Linked DNA regions of Homo sapiens. The protein of the gene in region 3 interacts with the protein of the main gene of each other region in a pairwise test. Each region holds a gene or a part of one and is shown on either strand. Other genes may lie near its edges.

The links.
Region 1: the proteins of COL4A2 (region 3) and ATF7IP interact in a two-hybrid assay, tested with the Homo sapiens proteins (one large-scale study listed by IntAct).
Region 2: the proteins of COL4A2 (region 3) and ANXA7 interact in a two-hybrid assay, tested with the Homo sapiens proteins (one large-scale study listed by BioGRID and IntAct).

What each region holds. Positions count from the first base shown.
Region 1 is NC_000012.12:14,421,042-14,424,695, reverse strand, and holds part of ATF7IP (activating transcription factor 7-interacting protein 1), read right to left. Parts: intron 788-3,654; coding exon of another isoform or gene 781-787; coding exon 1-780. UniProt on the Homo sapiens protein: Recruiter that couples transcriptional factors to general transcription apparatus and thereby modulates transcription regulation and chromatin formation. Can both act as an activator or a repressor depending on the context.
Region 2 is NC_000010.11:73,397,021-73,400,674, reverse strand, and holds part of ANXA7 (annexin A7), read left to right. Parts: intron 1-2,289; coding exon 2,290-2,494; intron 2,495-3,400; coding exon 3,401-3,511; intron 3,512-3,654. UniProt on the Homo sapiens protein: Calcium/phospholipid-binding protein which promotes membrane fusion and is involved in exocytosis.
Region 3 is NC_000013.11:110,506,216-110,509,869, forward strand, and holds part of COL4A2 (collagen alpha-2(IV) chain preproprotein), read left to right. Parts: intron 1-199; coding exon 200-391; intron 392-1,431; exon of another isoform or gene 1,432-1,536; intron 1,537-1,719; coding exon 1,720-2,006; intron 2,007-3,654. UniProt on the Homo sapiens protein: Type IV collagen is the major structural component of glomerular basement membranes (GBM), forming a 'chicken-wire' meshwork together with laminins, proteoglycans and entactin/nidogen.

The DNA.
Region 1 (3,654 bases), on a different chromosome or scaffold from region 3:
GGATAGATCACCAGAGGCCAGATCATCAGAGGCTGGATCAGTGGAAGCTGGTGCTCCAGAAGCCAGATCAACAGAAGTTATTTCACTAGAGGCTATATCATCAGCGGCACAATCACCAGAAATGGGTTCAACAGGGACCGGTTCACCTGGGATGGGATCACTAGAGGTGGGATCACCAGAGGAGAGATCATCAGCAGTGGCATCACCAGAGGTGGCATCACCAGGGGACACATCACCAGAAGGGGCATCACCAGAGGTTGCATCACCAGAGGCAGCATCACTAGAGGAGGGCTCGCTAGAGGTGGGATCACCAGAGGTGGAATCACCAGAGGCCAGTACTCCGGAGGCTGGATCTCCGGCATCCAGATCACCAGGGGCTGGATCACCAGAAACTGGTTCAGCAGGCAGTTTAGAGACTGGTTCTGGAGTTATATTATGGGGAGACAAAGGTTCACAATTTAAATCATCATCCTGCTTGTTTTTTACATTAACACTTAGGATACAGGGTGTTTCCTTCCATTCTGCTTTACTTCCTTCAGGATCAAAACAAATCTCTTCAATGCCATTCACCTCTTCCTTGTCTTTAATGTAATCCATGTTTTCCAAAGGTGAGGTTGGGTCCAAATCTCCATTTTCATGGTTGCCATTTAACAGCTTGACATCAGTTTTCAACAGTTCTTCTTTGACCTTGTACACTGCTTCAAGTTGCTGACGATCACTCACTCTCATCGTTTTTCGAGCCTTAAAGACTTTTTTCTGAGGTTCTTCTAAACTGTCCATTCTGAATCTTTAAGAAAAAAGAGAAAGAGAGTTTAATAACTGAAACAGAAGCCACCTAATTGTAGACTTAATACAAATTGATCTTAGAAGAGATGCAAGCAGCACATTTCATGTAATGTTTAAGACATAGAAAACCTACTGCTTGTTGTATACTAATTATCATATTTACTGCATCTGTGTAATACAAAATCAAAAATGGCCATAGTCTACTAGAAAATCAACTAGAAAGTATTAGGGGGAAAAGGGACAAGTTTTTTTTTCCAATATGGAATTCACAGAGTATGGAGATGTTTAAGCAAAAAAAAGGTAGATAAAGTAAAAAAAAAAAAAAAAAAAAAAAAGTACCTGAAGAAAATGAGAAAGAAAAATAAAAGTGTAAGAACAACAGTAGGGAAATAACAGGTATAGAGATAAAGGAAAAAGGAGGAAGAATTAAGAAACATGTAAGGAAAGATTACATTTGCAACCAAGCATACTTAGATTGGCAGAACTATAAACATATTAACAAAAGATTACCATCAAGAAAGAAAATTCACAACAATGGGAGAAAATATTTGCAAATCATATGCCTGATAAGACTTTTATCTCGAATCTAGAATTTCATATCTAGAATACAGAATATATATTTATATAGAATACAGACTTTTATATCTAGAATATCTAAGAACTGCTATAATTCAATAATAAATCACCCAATTTAAAAATGGTCAAAGGACTTGAACAGACATTTCCAGAAAGAGACCCCTAAGCCAAAAGTCCATAAGCAATAAACATCATGAGACATCAGGGAAACGCAAGTCAAAACCACAATGAAATAACACTGCACACACGACAGGACGGCTACAATCAACGAGAATAATGAGTGTTGGCAAGGATGTGAAAAAACTGGAACTTTCATACAATGATAGTGGGATTGCAAATAGGTGCAGCTGCTTTGGAAAACAGGCAGTTCCACAATATGTGAAGTACAGAGTTGTCATATGACCCAGTGATTCCATTCCATTCATTTCCCAAGAGAAATGAAAACATATGTCCACACAAAAACTTGTACACAAATGCTCTATAGAGGCACTACTCATAATGGCCCAAAACTGGAAACAACCTAAATGTTCCATAACTGATGAATGGATAAATAAAATGTGCCATACCCCTACAACAGAATATCATTCAACCACAAAGGGGAATGAAGTACTGAACATGCTACTACATGCATAAACCTTAAAAATATGCTGAGTGAGAGAAGCCAGTCACAAAAGGCCACATACTGAATGATTCAATTTATATGAAATGTCCAGAGTAGGCAAATCTAGAGACAGAAAGTAAATCAGTGACTACCTAGGGTTGGAAGATTCTGGAGAAAATGAGGAGTAGCTGCTAAAGGGTACAGGATTTCTTTACAGGGTTATGAAAATGTTCTAACATTGATTATGGTGATGATTATACAGCTCTGTGAATATACTAAAAATAACTGAATTGTACTTTAAGTGGGTGAATAGTAGATATGTGGTTTTATCTCAGTAATGCCACTACAAAAAAATTTCAAAATAAATACAAAGGTTGTGTGTGTGTGTGTGTGTGTGTGTGTGTGTGTGTGTGTGTGTGTATTCTCTTTTTTTGGTAAGTTGTGCTACAGTTTTATCAATTCTATTCACTTATTAAAGTATGAACCTTTACTTGGCTGATATTTCTTGGTTTTATATCTGCTTTCTTGTTTTAATTATTTACTCTAATATTTATTATCTCTTTTCACTTACTTTTTCTTGGAAAGAGCTTAACATGTCATCCTTTTCCTTGAGATTCAAGCTTAAGTGTTATTTTCAATCTTTCTTCTTTTGTAATGTGTGCATATAAAGCTATAAATTTCCCTCTAAGAGCTGCTTTAGTTGCATCTCACATTTTAATGTGTCATTTACATTATTCTGTTAAAATATTTTCTAATTTCCATCATGATTTCTTCTTTCATCTATGACTTATTTAGAAGTAGGTTTCTTAAAAAGGTAATGAATTCTGACCAAGTGAAGCTCGCTTAGAAAAATACAAGGCTGATTTCACATTCAAAAATCAAGCAGTGTTGACCATGAACAAGCCATGATGCATTCTGACTTTATTTCATGCCCAGCAGAGTGTACAATTACGAGTTTTGCCTAAACTGAATGTCTGGTACCAGGATGTTACTGACTGAATTGTGCAGCATCCCACACCCCACATCCCCAGAAAGATATTAGTCTTAAGCCCCAGTACCTCAGAATGTGACCTTATTCGGATAGGGCCTTTACAGTGGTAATCAAGGTAATATAAGGGTACTAAAGTGAGCCCTAATCCAATACAATTGGTGTCCTTATAAAAAGGGGAAAATCTGGACACAGACAGACATGCACACTGGGAGAATGCCATGTGACAATTGAAGTTATGGTACCACAAGCCAAGCAACTACCAGAAGCTAGGAGAGAGGCCTGGAACAGATCCTTCCCTCAGCACCCTCAGAGGGAGAATGGCAATGACAACACCGTGATTTCAAATGTGTTGCCTCCAGAACTCTGAGACGATAAACTTCTGTTAAGCAAAAAAGAAAACCACAAAACAAATCAAGCTATTTAATTCACCACATAAACAGAACAGAGGGACAAAATCAACAAAGGATTACCTCAACAAATACAGAATATTCATTTGACAAAATTCAAGACTGATGCATAATTACAACTTGCCAGAAACTAAGAATACAAGGAAACTTACTCAAATCTGATAAAGGTTATCTACCAAGAAAACTAGAGATATCATGTCTGATATTGAAATAGGATCAGAAGAAAACAAGGATGTTTCCTGTAACCATTTCCTTGTTAACATCTGGCCAGTGCAATAAAGGCAAACAAAAGA
Region 2 (3,654 bases), on a different chromosome or scaffold from region 3:
TGAGGAAAGGCAATTGTGTGGGGGACTAGAGAGGTCTTGCTTTGTCTATTGAAAGCTGGCAGGTGCTTAGCACCAGCCCTGTGTAGCCATGGAGGGAGGCACACTCAGCGTTGCTAGATACTCCAGCCCTTCAAGTAAAGCCAGAAACTTGGGTTCTATGTGAAATTGCCCAAAGGTTCAAAATTTAGGAGTTAGTTTTAAAAAATGTTAACTGCTGTATGAGCCAGTAAAACATGGATGTAAGCAAAATCCATCCCATGAATCACTGGTTCTTTTTCTTTTTTTTAATGCCCTTGAGTCATAATATCACTGCATCTTAACCTTTGTGTTAGAATGTTTAAAATAATTAACGGCTTGGCTAGACCCAGAGATAAATTGCAGTGGATTTGTAGTTCTTAGACTTGGAGTACGTTTTATAAATGTGCTACTAAGTTCCACCTTGTTGATAGCTATACTACTCTGAGGACTAAGAGCTGAGCCATAAGTAAGAATTGTGCGTTTCAGTTTTTGTTTGTTTGTTTGTTTGTGTTTTTGAGATGGAGTCTCGCTGTGCGCCCAGGCTGGAGTGCAGTGGTGTGATCTCAGCTCACTGCAACTTATGCCTCCTGGGTTCAAGTGATTCTCCTGCCTCAGCCTCCCGAGTAGCTAGGATTTCAGGTGCCCGCCACTGTGCCTGGCTGATTTTTTGTATTTTTAGTAGAGACGGAATTTCACCATGTTGGCCAGGCTTGTCTCAAACTCCTGACCTCAAATGATCTGCCCTCCTTGGCCTCCCAAAGTGCTGGGATTATAGGCATGAGCCATTGCGCCTGGCCACATTTCAGTTTTTTGTTTTTGTTTTTGTTTTTGTTTTTGAGATGGAGTCTCGCTCTGTCACCAGGCTAGAGTGCAGTGGTGTGATCTCGACTCACTGCAACCTCCGTCTCCTGGGGTTCAAGCGATTCTCCTGCCTCAGCCTCCTGAGTAGCTGGGATTACAGGTACGTGCCACCACGCCCAGCTAGGTTTTGTATTTTTAGTAGAGATGGGGTTTCACAATGTTGGCCAGGATGGCCTCAATCTCCTGACCTCGTGATCCGCCCACCTCGGCCTCCCAAAGCGCTGGGATTACAGGCATGAGCCACTTAGCCCAGCCCACATTTTGGTTTTATACTCATAACTGTGGGGCTGCTATCTAACCCTGGGAGAATAGGAAGAGGGGTCTATACAAGTTTATGATAATATGTATCCTTATGCAAAGTGATTATATAGCTCTCGTGAATTTATCATAGGAGAGATGAGAATTATGGATATGTTCCCAAGTCCCTATGTATTAAACAGGACTGTAGTAACTATTTCAGTCAGTGTAGGCTAATTGCTAAAACAGACAACTCCCAAATCTCAGTGACTTAACACGATGAAAAAACAAATGTATTTCTTTCTTCAGTTTCCTGGACGTCAGTGGAGGATAGGGGGTGGGTGGGACGAGGCTTTGTTTCATGCAGTGTTTTGGGTTTCCAGGCTCCTTCCTTATTCTGATCCTACCATCCTTTAGCACTTTGGAGTCCTCCACTGGATCCTCTGCTTATGGGTGGCAGATGAAGGAAGAGAGAGAGCATGGAGGATTTGCCAGAGGTTTTTAGGGGACAGGTTTAGAAAGTGGTGTATCTCACTTTTGTCTATGTTCATTTACTGATATTCATTCATGTGGTTCGACCTAACTGCAAGGGGGTCTGGGAAGTGTAGTCTGTATAGCTTTGTGGCCTGGGGAGAAAGAGTTCAGTGAACATGCAACAATCTCTGCCACTCTGCATATTGCTGCTCTGAACCATGAAGTCCAAAATGTCACATCCGGTGTGTGATGTGATATACAGGTTACCTTTTTTATTTTTAAATATTATGTAACAGATCCAGATGTGTTGCAAGAAAGCCTCAAATTCCTCTGTTTAGGATATAGAGGAGGATCTTTCTCATATTTGTAGATGCTGGGAAAATGAAGGAACTGATGAGTTTTTTTTTTTTCTTAAAACCTTGAGGTTTGTAAAGAATCCTGTTCTGACTCCCAAATAGAGAAGCAGACCCCTCTTGCCTGACTCAAGTAGAATTAAATTTAACTGAATTCTGACAAACAAGTGTCCTTACAAACTGGTATACTGATAAACTAGTATAAGATACCAGGATTTCTAATGGGACTTTTAAAAAGTAAAAGAATGAGGTAGACCTTAATAATAACCTCTGTTTGTTCCTTATTTTTAGATGGGTCATATTTCTCTATGATCGTATTTGTTTAAAAATTATTCTGATTTTTCAGCCTGCAGGTCAGGAGTCATCTTTTCCCCCTTCTGGTCAGTATCCTTATCCTAGTGGCTTTCCTCCAATGGGAGGAGGTGCCTACCCACAAGTGCCAAGTAGTGGCTACCCAGGAGCTGGAGGCTACCCTGCGCCTGGAGGTTATCCAGCCCCTGGAGGCTATCCTGGTGCCCCACAGCCAGGGGGAGCTCCATCCTATCCCGGAGGTGAGTTACGGGTTGCGGAATTAGTAATGATTGGGATTGCTGTAGCACTTTTTCCTTCTCCCTTTATCCTCTTCATTCCTGCTTGTTTTGTATAAGGTCAAGTCGCTCTTAGGTAACCTTAGGTAGTAAGGACCTAGCTGGCAAGATGGAGGGATGAAGATTCTCTGGGGACATGAAAGCTGGGAGCAGTTTCAAAAATTCCACTGTGAAGGGACTTGGAATAAATTTCATGGCAATAAAGGACCAATATGTAACACTTTGCTTGTTTGTAGTCTTAAGACCTGATTAAGACATTTCAATTAGCAAGACTGTGACCTTTAGGTCAGCTTTATTCAAAGGTAAAAAAGACCCCAAAAAACAACAAAAAAACCTTAGCCCTTTTGTATTTTAAGTTAGTAGGGAAGAGTAATAAAGTAATATTTTGGCTGGGTGTGGTGTCTCACACCTGTAATCCCGACACTTTGGGAGGTTGAGGTGGGTGGATCACTTGAAGCAAGGAGTTCGAGACCAGCTTGGCCAACATGGTGAAACCCTGTCTCTACTAAAAATATGAAAATTAGCTGGGTGTGGTGGTGCATGCCTGTAATCCCACCTACCTGGGAGGCTGAGGCAGGAAAATCACTTGAACGTGGTAGGTAGAGTTTGCAGTGAGCCAAGATTGTGCCACTAAACTCCAGCCTAGGCAACAGAGTGAGACTGTCTCAAAAAATAAATAAATATATAAGGTAAAAATTTAAAAACTTATTTTTTACTGGAGAATTTGAAGTTTTGAATCTAGATAAACAGGGACTGCTATTATAGCATTAATAGCATATTTTTCCACTGTTAACAATAGATATTTTTCTAAAGTTTTTTCTGCAATCATGAGAACTGTACTATAGTTTATTGACATGTTCTTTTCTCTAGTTCCTCCAGGCCAAGGATTTGGAGTCCCACCAGGTGGAGCAGGCTTTTCTGGGTATCCACAGCCACCTTCACAGTCTTATGGAGGTGGTCCAGCACAGGTTCCACTACCTGGTAGGTACCAGCTGTCCAGAAAAAAACAGTATCATGATATTTTGAGTTTTTAAATCACCATTGAGGGAACTTAGTTTATATTTGAGATAATCTGCAATAAATGTTTATATTTCCATAAATAATTTTAAACATAATGGTTTTAT
Region 3 (3,654 bases):
ACTCACTCTCTCTCTCGGGCTGCAGGTACACCAGGCCGTCCACTCTCTCTCTCTCTCTCTCTCTCGGGCTGCAGGTGCACCAGGCCGTCCACTCTCTCTCTCTCTCTCAGGCTGTAGGTGCACCAGGCCGTCCACTCTCTCTCTTTCTCGGGCTGCAGGTGCACCAGGCCGTCCACTCTCTCTCTTTCTCGGGCTGCAGGTGCACCAGGCCGTCCAGGGAGCCCGGGCCTGCCGGGTATGCCAGGCCGCAGCGTCAGCATCGGCTACCTCCTGGTGAAGCACAGCCAGACGGACCAGGAGCCCATGTGCCCAGTGGGCATGAACAAACTCTGGAGTGGATACAGCCTGCTGTACTTCGAGGGCCAGGAGAAGGCGCACAACCAGGACCTGGGTAGGTACCTCCCACCCGGCCCCCGTTGCCTGCTCAGGGCTGGCCCGGAAGTGGCCAAGATCAAAGGGCCACAGCGAGACTCCCAAACCCTCCACGGCTGGTAAGTTCCCCTGACGGAAGGGTCCATCTACATTCCTCGAGTGCAGAAAGATTAAAACGGCCTTTGAAGCAGAAGCCTTACAAAGCCCTTAAACCTCAGGACCTTAACACAGGGACCTGCCTTTTAACCTGGTATTGACTTCCGCAGGCTCCCATGTGACCCGTCTGACCCCCGACCCCTCTCCAGTGGAGACCACCAATTACTTCACCTCCTTCTTGTTTTTGACCCAAGTTCTGTAGACTTGGAGTCAGGCAGGGGCCATGAGGGGCTGGGGTTCATGTAAGACTCTCCCATACAGCCCCCCGAGGAAAATGGACCCATGGACACGTGTGCATGCTCTTATTTAAGGAAGCCTTTGAAAGGCATTAACGCGACTTCGAATACAGAAAATGCAATACACACAAATTACAAGTGGAGGTAGCTTAGTCTGAGGTCCTCTTTGAGGGGGTGACGGGAAGGGTCTCTGGGATACTGGCTGTGTTCTGCCTCCTCGGTGCAGGTTACATCAGGCGTTCTGCCCCCGGGAAGCATGTTGCTGGCTCATGGTGCCTTCACATTCCTGCCTGTGCGCCCCGCCTCCACAATGAGTTTCTAAAGAACAACGGGGCAAAGGCCGCCAAGGATAAGGGCCAAAAATAGATCTAGGAACAGGGCCAAGGAGGCAGCCTAGCACCGGGCATGTTTGCTAAAGGTGGCTGCACTTCTGGGTCTGAGCTTTTCAGCAATCCATGTGAAGAGGGAAACCTGCTTAGCTGCAGCATTCGTTGTGGCCAGGAGATAAAGGCTATCTTAGTCTCCAGAAGCAATAAAGCTACATGGAAGGGAGAAGGGCCAGGACTCCTTCTGGGGTGGCTCCTTGGGGTCAAAGAGCGACCCCTTGGAGGCCATCAGAGTTTTCTTGGGGCCAGTGCTGTTAAGACCCCACTAAGGTAAGGCTCACCCAAAATGCTATTCCATGAAGACGCCACTCCCTGGTGATCCAACTTGGCCCAGTATGTGTGAGAACTTGTAGAAGAACAGAGCTGTTCCAAAATGCCAGTGGAGTCTGATCAAAAAGAGAAAAAGAAAGAAATTGGGAAGCCTTAGCCTGGCCCTCCAGTAGGTGGCTAAACTCCACCAGGTGCCCTGGGGCGAGTCCGTGACACACAGCCTCCTGGGCCTGGCTGGGGCTGGCAGGTGCGTCTTCTAGCCACACTGCACTGTGATCTCATGACCCCTCCTTCCACAGGGCTGGCGGGCTCCTGCCTGGCGCGGTTCAGCACCATGCCCTTCCTGTACTGCAACCCTGGTGATGTCTGCTACTATGCCAGCCGGAACGACAAGTCCTACTGGCTCTCTACCACTGCGCCGCTGCCCATGATGCCCGTGGCCGAGGACGAGATCAAGCCCTACATCAGCCGCTGTTCTGTGTGTGAGGCCCCGGCCATCGCCATCGCGGTCCACAGTCAGGATGTCTCCATCCCACACTGCCCAGCTGGGTGGCGGAGTTTGTGGATCGGATATTCCTTCCTCATGGTATGTGGTATTTGCCCAGTTCCCCTCCCCAACCACACCCTGCTGGGGACACAGCAAGAACAGCTGCCTTTGTGAGAAGAATCAGACACGGCAGTCCAGGGTGTGCACTGCACAAGGGTAGTTGGCCCAGGAAGCGAGCGAGAGCTGGAACACAGCTTACACTTGGCTAACTGAGCCACATGCTGGGCACAGGGCTTCCTCCACCCAGAAAGGGCTCATTAATTTGCCACCAGGCCTTTGTAAGGAGTGTAACCAGGACGAACTTGCCTGTTATCCGTCTTACTAGGTACAACACCAACACCAAAGGTGCAGCTGCTTTGGGTTTACCAGAAGTCTAAATATATGGGAGACTTTTCTCTAGAATCCTGATCTTATTTAGAATCTATCTGGAACCTAGAATACCCTGAAGAAATACCTATTAACTGGCTGGCTTAAAATGGATATATATTCGTGAGGAAAATTCTGGAATACCTTTGGGTATAAAATAGAGAGCCTGTGGATACTTTGAAAGCCAGGAGAAGGTGCACAACCAGGACCTGGGAAGGCACCGCCCACCCTTCCGGATCGCCTTTGGGTATAAAATAGAGAACCCTCAGCTTTGGCCAGATTAGGTTTAGCTTAACCTCCAGGGGAGAGACCACAGCACCATAGTGTCTCTTGCAATATTGCCTATTAAAGCAGAGGCTCCTCAACTTGGAATAGGGTCCCGTCCCGATAAATTCATTGTAAGATGAAGATACTATAAGTTGAAAGTGCGTTTTCAATTTATGATGGGTTTATCTGGATGTAACCCCACCAAAAATCAAATAGTGAATTGAATACATATTGCTTTTGCACCATCGAAAACTCAAAAATCCTAAGTCTAACCATGGTAAATCAGGGACCATCTGTATACTATTGTAGGGAGAAAAGAAAGTCTCACTGAGGACAGTGGGTCTTCCAGTGAGTTTATTTATATGCATTATAACTGTCATAACTCCAGCTATATGGATTGGATGCCCAGCATGTTAAATATTTCATAAATTATATATATATATATATATATATATACACACACACACACACACACACACACAACATAAAATATAAATTACATAGTGATTGCTAATCTTTCAAAACAACAGGAAAAAAAATCCGGATTCTAGGAAAGGAAGGAAAAGATAAACAAGTATTGGCATTTTAATAGGTATCGTTGCTATGATAAGTTGGAGCAACAGGATGCTAAATCCTGGGCAGGGACAGGCACAATTTCTACCTTTCCAGAAGCTTATCATGGAAGGTGACTTTGGAGCAACCTTCTTTTGTTTCACAGTGACCTTCAGGGTGCCCCTGTGTCAGGAAGTAAGCTTTGGTTGCTCCTGTTTTTTTCACTCCCGTTGTTAAATTCAAAATAAATGAGCCTCTCCCTTGTGAAGGGCATGATTACACAGTATCCAGAAAGGTCAGGCATCCCCTGTTCCATTAGCATCAGGTTTCAAATGACTGTCACGAGATAAGCAGACATTATCCTCTGCACACGTAACTCTCTGCTTACATAAATGGCTGACAGCCCCAGCAAGCCTGGAACTTGACATCCCCAAAAGGCATGGGTTGAGACGGCTCCTGGGTCAGGACAGATGGGCCAGAAGTACCTTGACTTCTGAGAACA